Linked DNA regions of Homo sapiens: region 2 is linked to region 1. A link means that fine-mapping ties the variant in region 1 to the expression of a gene that starts in the linked region. Tissue or cell type: pancreas. Region 1 holds a variant in brackets; the other region holds the start of a gene. All regions are shown on one strand. Distances are from middle to middle.

Region 1 (4,387 bases):
CATGAAATGAAGAATCTTACAAAGCCTTAGAACAATCAGTTCCACCAAAAACTACACATTATTTAACGCTGTATCATCAGAAAACTGCATCCACAACTTTTAGAAAATAAAGTTAATATTTGGAAGTCACAAGGTTGGTAAGTGGCAGTGTCACCGTCTGGTCCCGATTTCAAGTCGGACAGTCCCTCCCCAACACCGCCTAGGAAGTTATTAAAACGACCGGAAAAGAATTCCATAATCCGTTTCTTAACTTGCAAAGAAACAAAGCTATCTTTCCAATTCAAACAAAACGTTAACACCGCTGGCCAGATATAAAGAAAAACAACGGGCCGGGCACGGTGGCTCACGCCTGTAATCCCAACACTTTGGGAGGCCGAGGTGGCAGGATTACTTGAAGCCAGGAGTTCGAGACCAGCCTGGCCAACATAGACCGCGTTTCCACAAAAATAAAAAAAAAGAATAAAACAAAGAAAAACAACGATAAATAAACTTAACAGCTTTAAAGAAAAGCCACGACCACAGAAGGTTTACAACGAGTCATCTGCGCCAAGCAGCGGCACCTGAGACGCTGCGGGCGGGGAGGGTGGGGTCCGAGCGCCAGCGCTGACCGCCTGGGTGGAGGCCGCCCCGGGCCCCGGGCCTCGACTACCCTGCCGCGTCCGGGCACCGGCGCTCGGCTCCCACCCGGGCGTCTGAGCCTGCGGGCACCTGCGGCCGCCGGCGGACAGCGCGTCAGGTCTCACCGCCGCGGCCCTCGCACTGGCTCGCCGCCTCCAGACCCTGCCCCTCAGCGCCCCCGGCCTCCCTCGGCGCCGACTGCCGTGACGATCTAGGCCCGGGACCCCGCACGGGTCCCGCACCCCTGAACAGGCCCCGCAGCCGAAACGAGCGTCGCTCCCTCCCGCGTCCCCTCGATTTCCCCGCAACCCGCACCTTCTCCTCATGGCGGACGCTCCAAGCAGCCGTGAGTCCAGGTCCAGACCTACTCCACACGGCCCCGAGAGCAACAACCACCCGCAAACACCGGCGATGTCACTCCGCGTAGCCGCTCCGCGAGCCGTTGAGCCCCGCAAAATTTCAAACCGCGCCACGGGGCGAAGCCTCGTCGCGATTGGCGTCGCGTCCCGTCGCTCCAAGAAAATCCCCGCCCCTCGGGCTGAAGTCGCGGGTGCGCAATCGGGGTGGGGACTCGCGAGCAGGGCCTGGGAAGCGCCGGAGTGGCGGCGGGGGATGACGTCACTGTCTGTGAGTGGCCGGGCGTGGCCTGCGCCTCCCGCTTCCCTGGCTTGGCGGCAGCCTCAAGGGACTCCTCTCCCAAGCCAGCTACCTCATCGGAGCGCCGCCCCGCCTCGCCCCGCGCAGTTTGGATTCGAAGTGCGCGGGCGGGGAGGGAGTTGAGAGCACCGCGGCTACCTGGCTTCCCTGAGTCCCGGCTGCCGGGAACGGGCGCGGGGGTGAATAGGTAAGTTAGCGCCTAGTTTCCCTCGCTCATCCAAGAAGCGAAGCTTGGAATCGATCTTTGGTGGGACTCTTCCCCAGATGTAAGAAGCCATACACTAAAGGGGAAGGGAAGGAACATTGAGTCCTGCTCATGGGCCTGGAACGTTTCAACGCCAGTTATCCCATTTAACCTCCACAATCGCCATTGCAGAGGAAACGCAAAAAGATTTGAATGATTTGCCTAAGTCACGTTATCAAATTAGATGAGTTTCTAAATCGTTACATGAAAAATTTAAAACTCAAAATAGACATTACTTTTGTAGCCTCCTTTCCTCGATGAACATGTTACATCCCTAAATGCTTATATATCACCGTTTTTTCCCAGTGAT[TCATGGTGG/T]CATGGTGGCATGAATCCTGGTGTGTAGATATCTCGCCCATTCTGCTATTGATATTTAGATGATAATTTAAAAGATAAGGCTGGGCTGAATATCTTCATACATAAATCTTTGTGTATGTATGTATTTATAAATGCATCCTGCATTTTCGTACGGCTGATTCCTAGAGGTGTAATTACTGAATGCTCCCTTTATTAATTTGCCTTCTGCACAAAGCCTCACCGGAAAAGTACCCTCCTTTTGTTACCCTCAGCAGGGCTGAATTCTATTGTACTTCTAAACATCTTTGCTCATTTTGTAGGTAAAATAATAATACTGGCATTTCCTTGTTTGGCACTTGATTATAATTGAAATTGCACATTTTTCGTGTTTATTGGCCAACTGTAACTTAAGTGAATCCTCTTCATATGCCTTTTCCCTAAAGGTAAAGGATGCTTGTTTGCTTCACCTTCAGAACCATATTTTTCTTATTTTCAGAAAAACTTCATTAGTGCTTTCAATGTTCTTTTTACTTTTTTTAATTGAGACGGAGTCTCGCTCTGTCACCCAGGCTGTAGTGCAGTGGCCCAATCTCAGCTCACTGCAACCTCCGCTACCTGGGTTCAAGCAATTCTTGTGCCTCAGCTTCCCGAGTAGCTGGGACTACAGGCACGCACCACCATGCCTGGATACTTTTTTTTTTTGTATTTTTAATAGAGACGGGGTTTTGCCATGTTGGCCAGGCTGGTCTTGAACTCCTGACCTCAGGTGATCCGCCTGCCTCGGCCTCCCAAAGTGTTGGGATTACAGGCGTGAGCCAACGCGCCCGGCTTCCATGTTCTTTTTAACTTGTCAGCAGCATGCCAAACATTCACAGCACCAACACAGTGGGCGACAGGCACCACTTTTTCAATTTCCTTGCACTCTGTGATTAACATTGACACCACTAATAGAGTAGATGGTAGCACTACTTTTAAAATTTACTTGCATTCTTTGTTGATTAAATTAACAGGAGAGCTTTTCAGAAAGCTTCACAAATTTGTGATCTTCATACTTGTTCTTAGCACCAGCATTATGAAGTATCCAAAGAAAAGGCAATTTTTTCTCTCTTGTCCTTTACACTGAGGTGCTGAGGCTAACAAAGTCATAGAACTGATGCAAAGATATCCATTCAGAGCATAAACGCAGCATGTAAAACACTGTGTAATACGCGTTTATAATATATGACCTTAGCCTGGGCACTGTGGCAAAACCCTGTCTCTATAAAAAATACAAAAATTAGCCAGGTGTGGTGGTATGAGCCTGTAGTTCCAGCTACTTGGGAGGCTGAGGTGGGAGGATCACTTGAGCCCAGGAGGTCAAGGCTGCAGTGAGGCATGGTCACGCCACTGCACTCCAGCCTAGACGACAAAGCAAGACCCTTTCTCAAAAAAAAAAAAAAAAAAAAAAAAAAATCCTATTACAGGGTCATATATTTCTACTGGATGGAAGTGCAATGTTTTGCCACTGTTTAATCTTTTTCTGATGCCACCTATTCTTTCTGTGAATTAACAGCCCTGTTGGCAGTGTCTTTGGTCTTGCACACTAGCTTGACATAACACTCAAAATTCTAGCTAGATGCTTGAGGAATGCCTTTTCCTTGGAATATATTCTTATACAGAATTATCATTATTCTTATTTATTTATTTATTTTTTGAGACAGAGTCTTGCTCTGTTGCCCAGGCTGGAGTCCAGTGGCATGATCTCGGTTCACTGCAGCCTCTGCCTCCTGGGTTCAAGCGATTCTCCCACCTCAGCCTCATGAGTAGCTGGGACTACAGGTGCGCGCCTCCACAGCTGGCTAATTTTTATATTTTAGTAGAGACAGAGTTTCACCATGCTGGCCAAGCTGGTCTCAAACTCCTGACCTCAAGTGATTTGCCTGCCTCGGCCTCCCAAAGTGCTAGGATTACAGGTGTGAGCCACCGTGCGGGGCCCAGAATGATCATTATTCTATAGGAAGAATACTTTTGATGATCCAGTAACTCAGGTTTTGATTTTCTTTCTTCCTTTTAGTAAGTGGCAGCACTGTGGAATGGGGAACAGATGGAAGAATGAGCAGCTGGGAGGCACACTCTTGCAAAAACCCAGGCAAGAGACAATAAAGACCTCTGTCGTAGGGATGGTGAGGAGAAGATGAACTAGAGACATTTAGAAATAAGAACCAATAGCACAAGGGAACCAGCTGAAGGTGGGGCATAGAAAGAAAAAATCTGAGGTCAAGAATACAATTTTTTGCTCATTTGAACAAAGTTTGGGAATACAGGAAGAAGAGCAGATTAAAGGATTCAAGTAGGGACAGGAGCTTCCACTCATGAGTTTATTTTGTACATGCTGAGTTTGAAGTGCCTGTGGAATGACCAGGTAGGAAATACTTGTGTGGCGCTAAGGAGTGAGATGAAGGCTTGAGATCTGGAAGTGGATGACAACAAAGGACAGAGAGAGGGGAGATGTCAGCAAATGGGATGAGCAGAGAGGAGTAATCAAAGAACAACCTAAGAGACTGTGGGAGGACAAAGAAAGGGTATTATGGA
Region 2 (4,170 bases), 27 kb after region 1:
TCAGTTAAGTATCAGGGTGAAGGAGAGGCAAAGATGATTCTGATATTTCAAGCTGAATAGCAGTGCACATTAACAAAAATTAAGTCAGAAGTTAGTTAGGAGAGGACGTTATTGCCTGGAAATCCACTTTGGCCATGCTGAATCACCCAGTGGGCTCAAGTTTCTCTTCTTGGTCTCCTCTACTTGATCTCACCTGAACTAGTGGCTTTAACTAGCACCTCTTTTAAATTCTTCAGACATTGTTGCAAGTCTTTTATGTGCATGTCACTGTGCAAGCACTAAGTATTAAAGAGAAAGAAGCCGGGAGTGGTAGCTCAAGCCTATAATCCCAGCACTTTGGGAGGCTGGGACGGGCAGATTACCTGAGGTCAGGAGTTTGAGACCAGCCTGGCCAACATGGTGAAACCCTATCTCTACTAAAAATACAAACATTAGCCAGGTGGGCTAGCGTGCGCCTGTAATCCCAACTACTGGGGAGGCTGAGGCAGAAGAATCGCCTGAACCCGGGAGGTGGAGGTTGCAGTTAGCCAAGATCGCGCCACTGCACTCCAGCCTGGGCAACGGAGTGAGACTGTGTCTCAAAAAAATAAATAAAATAAAATAGAAATAAAATCTGGTCTAAGATGCCCTGCAGTTCTCATCTTGATCCATCTTCCTTCCAGTCCTCACAATGCAGCTGCAGTTCTACATTTCTATCTGCTGGATGTTACAAGCTATATTTCTTACGGGCATCTTAACTTCCCCCATCCAAACCCAAACAAATCAACTTCCCCCATCAAACCTGTTCCTTTTTCTAATTATTTTTCTCATTTCTATTCAATGTTAATACAACAAATATTTATTAAGCACATGGTGTGTGCTTGACTCTAAGCTAGGTACTCACTAGGTAGTGTTGAACAAAACAAACATGATCCCTGCCCACCTTCCAGTCTAATGAGGAATACAGACATAAAATGAATAACTAAATGATTACACAAGTAATCCATTAAAATCACAGTGGCAGTATTATTTTCCTAATAACCCAGGTTAAAAATCTCACTCATTTTTGCTTCTCCTTCAACATTTATAACCAATCAGTAAGTCTTTGAGTTTTCTTTCACCATAACTTAAAAATCCATCACTTTCCTTCATTCCCACTGCTACCAATTTTGTGTGGGCCTTTATTTCTTGTCTGATCTACGGTCTCCTAACTGGCCTTCTTGTTGCCCATTTACGCCACCACACACATCACTATTAGAATCATCAAGTATTGTCTCATGCCACAAATGGAAAAAAAATTTTTTTCAGTGGCTACTGTGTAACTGCTGATGGGTGTCTTCCCTTACATGCCTTGTCTTTCCCTGGTTTGCCAACTTTGCTCCTACCAATCTATCTGCCTGGAGCATGCTTAGTCTCCAAAGAAAATATGCTTATTACTCACACTCACTTCCTTGAAGCTCCTAGATCATCACCCCAACTAGAAATGATCACTTACTGTGAACTCTTCGGGTACACTAGCTCTATCACTCATTTACCACCTGTGTGTGATAATTTGTGCTTCATACAGCTCCTACTGGAGTGGTAAGATCCCTAATGGCAAAGATGTCTTAACCATCTTTCCGTCCCTAGGGATGCCTGGCACTAATGGTGTCTCCCTTGCCTGTATGCGGGGTTGGGGGGTGATTTCCATTAACTCTCTGGCCAGGTTCCAAACAGCTCTTACTACTCCCTGGATTCATTCTGGACCTGCTGGGGAAGCGCCAAGGACAATACCAGGGGCCAAGAACAAGATCAAAGGGGCACGGCAAGGAAGAAATGTGCATCCAATGAGTGCTAAACTGTAGATGCGATAAAGGCGTCAGGCAAGCACTGACCTGCTCCAGCAGATAGATGAGCTGGTCTCGAGCCAGCCTCTTCAGCATGGAGAAGTCAGGCAGCTCAGGGGCGTCCGGCCGATGGGGAAAAGCCATGGCAGCGGTCACCTGCGCCGCGGGGTGGAAGGACGCCCTTCGTTCTGAGAAGGCCGGCCGCAGCCCAGGGAAGCGCAAGGGGGGCTATCCTTCAGGCCTGGGCACCGACTTCCAGAGACCCCAGATGGGCCCTCGCTCCTCAGCAGCACTCCAGGAATGAATGGCCACCTCCAGGCAAGAGAGCTACTACCTCGGAGCAGCCTTGTCTCAGACCTGCAGCCACCGTGTCTCGACCCTCCCTCCCTGATCCACTCTGCCCGTCAGCAGGATTCCGGTCTACACCCCGCAGAGACTCCGCAGCGTACGAGGAGAACCCCGCCTTCTACCAGAAAAAGAAGCGACTTCCTAGATCTCCCGGAAGTCCCTTTCGCTCCCAGCGCTTCGCGTACCAGGAAGGGGACGGCGTCCTGAAAGGGACATTTGAAAAACGGAGGCAACGCGTCTATTAATTAGGTGGCGGCGCCTGGGGTCGCAGCACTCCAGAGGCTGAGGTGGGAGAATCGCTCGAGTCAGGGAGGCGGAGGTTGCAGTGAACTGCGATCGCGCTACTGCACCCCAGCCTGGGCAACAAAGCTAGACCTTGCCTCAAAAAAAAAAAAAAAAAAAAAAAAAAAGACATAATGAATGCATCAGGCTAGCTAACAATACCTCAACTCTGATCAATCATACCATCATATCATTTCCTGGTGAGATGCATAGGAAATACAGAGCATCACCTATTGCCAAAAATTGAACCTAATCAAGCCTCAAGATCTAACTACCAGTTTATAGGCTATATAGAGATTAGCAGGAATATGTTAAGACACCAAAGGTATGAAATCAACCATATCCAAAATGTAGGAAATTATATGGGACAAATGATCTGTCGTCTTCAAAAAAATGGCAAAGTGGGAAATGTGGGAGGGGAAAACACTTCAGAATAAAAGAGATTTAAGAGATGTATCAACAAAATGTTTCAATGTGTGGATCTTTTTTGGATAATAATTCAAAGATAACTGATTTAAGGAATTACTAAAACTTTTCGGGTATTGTATTTCTTTTCTTCTCTTTTTTTTCCTGACAGAGTCTCGCCCTTTTGCCTAGTGGAGGAGCTCGGCTCACTGCAAGCTCCGCGCCACAACCCCCCTGCCGCCCCAGGTTCAAGAGATTCTCCTGCCTCAGTCTCCCGAGTAGACTGGGATTACAGGCGAGTGCCACCATGCCCGGCTAATTTTTGTATTTTTGGTAGAGACGGGGTTTCATTATGTTGGCCAGGCTGATCTCGAACTCCTGACCTCAAGTGATCCGCCTGCCTTGGCCTCCCAAAGTGCTGGGATTACAGGCGTGAGCCACAACGTTGGGCCAGGTATTGTATTTCTATGTTATTATTATTTTTTGTATTTCTATGTCATACAGGCTTGTATTTCTGTTAAAAACAAGTCCTTATCTCTTTGAGATACATACTGAAGTTTTTACAGGTGAAATAATTTGGCCAGGAGTAATGGTTCATGTCTCTAATTCCCACCACTTTGGGAGGTCCAGGTCGGGGTCGGGGGGTTGCTTGAGGCCAGGAGTTTGAGATAAGATTGGTCAACTACAACACATAAAAAATAGCCAGGCATGGTGGTGGGCACCTTTAATCTCGATACTTGGGAGGCTGAGGCAGGAGGATCACTTGAGCCCAGGAGTTTGAGGCTGCAGTGCGCTACGATCATGCTACAGCACCCCAGCCTGGGCAACAGAGTGAGACACCGTTTGTTTTTTCTTTTCTTTTTTTTTTTTTGAGACAAGGTCTGGCTTTATCTATCACCCAGGCTGGAGTGCAGTGATATGTTCTGTCTCTTTTTTTTTTGAGATGGAGTTTCGCTCTTGTTGCTCAGGCTGGAGTGCAATGGCACGATCTCAGCTCACTGCAACCTCCACCTCCCAGGTTCAAGCGTTTCTCCTGCTGCAGCCTCCTGAGTAGCTGGGATTACAGGCATGTGCCACGCACCCAGCTAATTTTGTATTTTTAGTAGAGACAGAGTTTCTCCATGTTGGTCAGGCTGGTCTTGAACTCCTGACCTCAGGTGATCTTCCCGCCTCAGTCTCCCAAAATGCTGGGATTGTAGGCATGAGCCGCCATGCCTGGCCCGATCTGTCTCTTAAAAAATAAAAAAAAAAACTAAAATATGTTTGGGATTTGCTTTAAAATAACCCAGGGGGAGATGTAGGAACATTCAGGAAAAAGATTGGGCCAGGC

Alleles and levels. Positions count from the first base shown, and alleles are read on the strand shown. Sizes are in standard deviations (SD) of each study's normalised expression.
In carriers of allele T in region 1, the expression in pancreas of the gene that starts at base 2,294 in region 2 tends to be higher than with TCATGGTGG alone (large effect, 1.7 SD a copy in GTEx).

The links. PIP is the estimated chance that this variant, and not a neighbour inherited with it, causes the effect.
Region 2: it holds the start of VPS33B, and the variant in region 1 is fine-mapped to the expression of VPS33B in pancreas (GTEx, PIP above 0.99).

What each region holds. Positions count from the first base shown.
Region 1 is chr15:90,993,474-90,997,860 of GRCh38, forward strand. PRC1 (protein regulator of cytokinesis 1) reads right to left here and starts at 1,062. Exons shown (of 15, transcript NM_003981.4): 1 at 934-1,062. The coding sequence starts at 944. It overlaps LOC124903556 (a long non-coding RNA gene), which reads left to right and starts at 1,306. Exons shown (of 2, transcript XR_007064759.1): 1 at 1,306-1,462; 2 at 3,870-4,152. RefSeq lists enhancers at 368-1,235, 1,236-2,102 and a silencer at 599-818. The variant TCATGGTGG/T (reference allele first, on the strand shown) is at 1,830.
Region 2 is chr15:91,020,301-91,024,470 of GRCh38, forward strand. It overlaps VPS33B (VPS33B late endosome and lysosome associated), which reads right to left and starts at 2,294. Exons shown (of 23, transcript NM_018668.5): 1 at 1,854-2,294. The coding sequence starts at 1,949. It overlaps VPS33B-DT (VPS33B divergent transcript), which reads left to right and starts at 2,322. Exons shown (of 4, transcript NR_110104.1): 1 at 2,322-2,440; 2 at 3,013-3,671. RefSeq lists enhancers at 1,378-1,994, 1,849-2,258.